Regions from separate parts of the Homo sapiens genome. Here region 1 is linked to region 2. A link means that fine-mapping ties the variant in region 2 to the expression of a gene that starts in the linked region. Tissue or cell type: whole blood. Region 2 holds a variant in brackets; the other region holds the start of a gene. All regions are shown on one strand. Distances are between the middles of the regions.

Region 1 (2,683 bases), 48 kb before region 2:
CACATTCTTCCCATGTGCAGTTGACGGGCCATATTACAAAAACAAAATTTGGAACTCCATTTCTGTTTTAGATTGTCCACAGCTTCAAGACGAATGTTATCGTCTACAAAATGTTTAAAATCCTGAAATTATAGAAACGTGGCTTTAGTCTCTACCCATTCAAAATAATATGTAATATATGGAAAATGTTTTTGTTGAGGAAGAAAGATAAATGAGACTGTGACCATCTTAGGCCTCACAATCAGACAACATTTAAGTCATATTGGTATTTGGTGCAAAACTGGATTCATAAAAAATTACTTTGGCGACAAAATGACACAGTAGTCTAGATATTGATACTCAAATATTCTGGGTATTAAAACTCAGTCTTCTTCAGGTTATACTCCCAGCTAACTTACTTTGGGACACGTTCTCGGTCTATACTGAGTCTGTGTTCCCAGGCTTAAGTCCTCAAACTTGGCCGAGTAATAAAACTAACCATGATTTCTTTAAGTTTTAGTACCTGTTATTTCACCTTTCGGTCGACAAATCGTTTTTCTCATGTTCCTCTGTCTTACATCAATTTAATTTGTAGACCAGCCAAATGACCTAAAAGGCTAGAAGGAAACAATTTTTCCTCCCCTACAACTATTTCCTCTAGTCCTCCGGCTGAAAGTTGTTCCACGTCCTGGGCAGAGAGAGCCCCACCAGGCAGCACCACCAGCTCCACAGAGTTGGAGCGATTCCCCCAAGAAGCTCCCCTGCGCCCCTCCTCACCCCCAGAGACCAGCAGAAGAAATGGCATCTATCCCTTGGAAGACACTAGGCAGGAGAGAACAACTGCAAGCCCTTCTGCTCACACAGAAAAAAGGATGGCGGAGGTGGCGAATGGGATGTAGCAGAAACCCCGCGGCTGCGGCGGAAGGGACACCGCCCCTCTCCAGCCTAACTCTGAGCCATCTTCCCCCTGTTGTTATAGCACTTAGAACGGACGCCACTGCGCAGGTCACACCGTGCCGCGCAGCCTTCTGGGGGTCGGAGTCCAGAGGGGCTGAGGCGCGAAGGCGGAGACCGACTTCTTAGCGGGCCGCAGTTGGAATTAGATTTCTACTGGGGCGGGGCTCGAGCGAACCACGGCCTAATCCTCATTAGCAGAGAAGGATAATTACCGCAATACTCTGCCCTGCCCTGACAGCAGCTCGTGAGACCCTGAGTCTGCTGAAGGCCGCCTCCAGCCTGGGCTCCGGGCACAGGCCACACCCCTCCCGCCGCGTCCTGGCCTCTCCCATCGATGGCGTGTGGGTGGGGCTTCGTGGGGGCGGAGCTGCGCGGGGCGGGGCGTCGCTGCGCGGGGCGGGGCGTCGCGGGCTCGTCCGTGATGCTCTGGGATCCCGCGCTTCCGAGACTCGCAGTCTACGCGAGCTGCCTGTTTTTTTCCTGCTTGGACGCGCATGAGGGCCCCGTCCATGGACCGCGCGGCCGTGGCGAGGGTGGGCGCGGTAGCGAGCGCCAGCGTGTGCGCCCTGGTGGCGGGGGTGGTGCTGGCTCAGTACATATTCACCTTGAAGAGGAAGACGGGGCGGAAGACCAAGATCATCGAGATGGTGAGTGTGGAGGCTCGGCGCGCCCAGAGCACGCGAGGGGCCGGCTGGGCCGTCCGCTGGCCTCGGCAGCCTGTGCTGGGCCGCTGTTCGGTCGCGACGGGGAGCTGCCGGCGTCGCCTGTCAGGCTGGGATCTCGCTAGCTCGGGACGCGCAGCTTGGGGGACCCGGCCGCCCCGCGTGCGGCCACTCCGCGGGCTTGGTGACCAGGGTTGGGTCCCCGGCTGCGGCCCTTGGCTGCCCGTGGTCTTTGTTAGGTTTCCGTTTGAAGGAACAAGGCAGAAAATAGATGAATCGGACACAGGCTACTTTGTGCTGCAAAACCCGTTTCTCTAGAGATAAGCTGCATGTCCTGGGCAGGTGGCTCCTTCTCTCCCTGCCTTGCTCCCGCCCTCCCCCCGGATCCGCGTCAAACCGTTGCCGCTAATCTAGTTGCAATTCCCGCAGAGGACTAGTTTTATGTTGGGGCTGCCGTGAGTTAGATTATGAAAATGTGCAATATCTAAAATTTTACAAGAATGGCAATCCAGGAGAAATTCAGGATAGTTTATTTTGTATTTGAATGTATTCCTTCTTGTCTCAAAACTCCCACGAAATATCTTTGTTTTCATCTTAACTCCCAAAGCTCTTGTATACATTTTCGAATTTAATTTTTTATTGAAGAGGGTGTCTCAAGAATTCCCTTTGAGATACATTATAAGTAATTGTTTCAAAAATGAGGATATTTAGTTTCGTTTTGTATTTTAATTAGAACCCACTCAGGAAGACAATTCTTGCACAAACTTGCACGCTTATGTATTTCCTGAAATGCATAATCCTGGGTATACGCCTGACCGTGTGCTATACATGTGAACATCTAGGGTCAGATGATTTATGATAGAAAAAAATTTAAAATCTACACTAAATAATATCATTTTAGGGTGTAATACTTGGAATTTCTGAGCACCTGCAATATGTTCCAACTGACGAAAGACACGATTTGTCCTATTGGTTGTACTGACCCCAGGTTGAATACAGATGTATTTGCATAATTAAAATTAGCCAGTGTCCCAGCTATTTGGGAGGCTGAGAGGAAGATCACTGGAGTCTGGGAGTTCAAGGTT
Region 2 (2,675 bases):
TTCTTCTGGGAGACTCCCAAGGAGACTTAAGAATGGCAGATGGAGTGGCCAATGTTGAGCACATTCTGAAAATTGGATATCTAAATGATAGAGTAAGTATACAAATCTGTAATTTTTTTCGAAGAAAATATTAGGATGAAACTTGATAGGCAATTGTTGCCATAGTCACCTGAGAAAGTAGTTATTTTAGAGACTTTTTTTTTTGAGACAAGCCTCTGTTACCGAGGCTAGAGTGTAGTGATGCAATCACATCTCACTGCAGCCTCGACCTTCCCGGCTCAAGCAATGCTCCCACCTCAGCCCCTCAGGTAGCTGGAACTACAGGCGCACACCACTACACCTGGCTGATTTTTAAATTTTTTTTAGAGATGAATTCTCCCTGTGTTGCCCAAGCTGGTCTCAAACTCCTGGGCTCAAGTGATTCTCCAGGCCTCTCAAAGTGCTTGGGATAACAGGCGTGAGCCACTATGCCCAGCCAAAACATATTGTGATCATGCATTTTGATTGTTCTTTATACTGGTGATGTTTAAAAAGGAGCTGAGATGCATGCTATAGGTACTGGGAAAAGGGAGGATGTGTATTCTGTAGGAGGCCTCTGTGTCTTCTGCCCACTAGATGCTGGATAGCAGTCTCCTGCCATGAGACTCAAAAATGTCCCTAGACGTTACTAAATGTTCCGTGGACAAAAATCACCCCATTTGAAAGCCACTGGACTGGAGAGAGAGCATTTTGGGGAGAAAAGCTACCATGTGGAAAAATGTCTGTCAGTGGGTCTTAAGGATTTGAAAATATTTCTTCATTTCAAAGATTTTTTGAAAGTGAATTTAATTTATTGCATTTTGCCCAAGAGATCTAACAACGAGATTCATACTGAAATTATTTGTTTCTTTGCCCTGCATGTTAATTTTCTTTTGTTCATCTCTTGATTAGGTGGATGAGCTTTTAGAAAAGTACATGGACTCTTATGATATTGTTTTAGTACAAGATGAATCATTAGAAGTAGCCAACTCTATTTTACAGAAGATTCTATAAACAAGCATTCTCCAAGAAGACCTCTCTCCTGTGGGTGCAATTGAACTGTTCATCCGTTCATCTTGCTGAGAGACTTATTTATAATATATCCTTACTCTCGAAGTGTTCCCTTTGTATAACTGAAGTATTTTCAGATATGGTGAATGCATTGACTGGAAGCTCCTTTTCTCCACCTCTCTCAACACACTCCTCACCGTATCTTTTAACCCATTTAAAAAAAAAAAA[AAG/G]CTAAAATTAGAAAAATAACTCCCTACTTTTCCAAAGTGAATTTTGTAGTTTAATGTTATCATGCAGCTTTTGAGGAGTCTTTTACACTGGGAAAGTTTGTAGAAATTTTAAAATAAGTTTTATGAAATGGTGAAATAATATGCATGATTTTAAGTATTGCCATTTTTGTAATTTGGGTTATTATGCTGATGGTATCACCATCTCTTGAAATTGTGTTAGGTTTGGTTATTTTGTCTGGGGAAAAAATATTTACTGGAAAAGACTAGCAGTTAGTGTTGGAAAAACCTGGTGGTGTTTACAATGTTGCTAATCATTACAAAACATTCTATATTGAAGCACTGATAATAAATATGAAATGCAAAACCTTTTTAATTCTATGGTCAAAACTATCTTTACTGAGTCAACAAATATTTATTGAGCACCTACCATGGTTTTTTGTTTTCTTCTTGTTTCTTTCTCTCCGTCTGCCTGTCTTTTGTGATATATAAATTCTAAAGTCCTTGTCATAGTGGCTATTTAGATTGAATATTTTCAGAAATTATTTAAGTCTAAAGATATTTCAGGGAAAATTTTGTCTGCCCTTCAGAAAATACTGAGACCTCTGAAAATTATTTTCTCCCATTTAAAACATCAGTAAAAGGTACAAGTCTGCAAGTTTCAGAAGCCGAGACAGGAAGCAGTGGAGCTGGGTCTCGTGGTGACTGAATCTGAGCAGCACTGCGACATTAGGAGCCAGCATCTCTCTGTACAGTCCAGCTACCCACTCCACATCTCTGGCTCTGCCTCATCATTCATCTTCAGGATTTAGACCTGCCATTGTGATCAATTTGACCGTGATTCTTACCCTTAATTCCAGATCCTATGAACACCTAATTGGTTTGCTTATATAAGCACCTGAGCTATGATACACACAAAGCATGATCTGATTCATTCTGGCCATCCAGTGTGAGCAGCAGTCTCTAGTTCAGTCAGATGTGGCTGGAAGGCAAGGTCACATGTTAGGAAACCTTTTTGTCCTGGGAATGCCCATCCTTATCCTCCCCCACCACTCCTTTTCATCATCATAAGCAATGAAGCAGGCCAGGCACGGAGGCTCACACCTGTAATCCCAGCACTTTGGGAGGCCAAGGCGAGTGGATCGCTTGAGCCTAGATGTTTGAGATCAGCCTGGGCAACATAGGGAGACCCCAGTCTCTACAAAAAATTAGCCAGGCATGGTGATGCACCTGTAGTCCCAGCTACACAGGAGGCTGAGGTGGGAGAATCACCTGAGCCTGGGGAGGTTGAGGCTGCAGTGAGCTGTGATTGCACCACTGCACTCCAGGCTGGTCAACAGAGCAAGAACTTATCTCAAAAAAGCATAAAAATAATGAGGCCAGGTGCAGTGGCTCACATCTGTAATCCCAGCATTCTGG

The links. PIP is the estimated chance that this variant, and not a neighbour inherited with it, causes the effect.
Region 1: NT5C3A starts here. The variant in region 2 is fine-mapped to the expression of NT5C3A in whole blood (INTERVAL, PIP above 0.99).

Annotation. Positions count from the first base shown.
Region 1 is chr7:33,061,468-33,064,150 of GRCh38, reverse strand. NT5C3A (5'-nucleotidase, cytosolic IIIA) reads left to right here and starts at 1,375. Exons shown (of 9, transcript NM_001002010.5): 1 at 1,375-1,583. The coding sequence starts at 1,446. LOC124901610 (a long non-coding RNA gene) reads right to left here and starts at 966. Exons shown (of 4, transcript XR_007060279.1): 1 at 503-966; 2 at 4-122. RefSeq lists an enhancer at 861-1,020 and silencers at 1,261-1,380, 1,681-1,740.
Region 2 is chr7:33,013,087-33,015,761 of GRCh38, reverse strand. It overlaps NT5C3A (5'-nucleotidase, cytosolic IIIA), which reads left to right. Exons shown (of 9, transcript NM_001002010.5): 8 at 1-92; 9 at 931-1,632. The coding sequence ends at 1,032. Among named protein-coding and RNA genes, the nearest start is that of NT5C3A, 48 kb to the left of the region's middle. The variant AAG/G (reference allele first, on the strand shown) is at 1,258.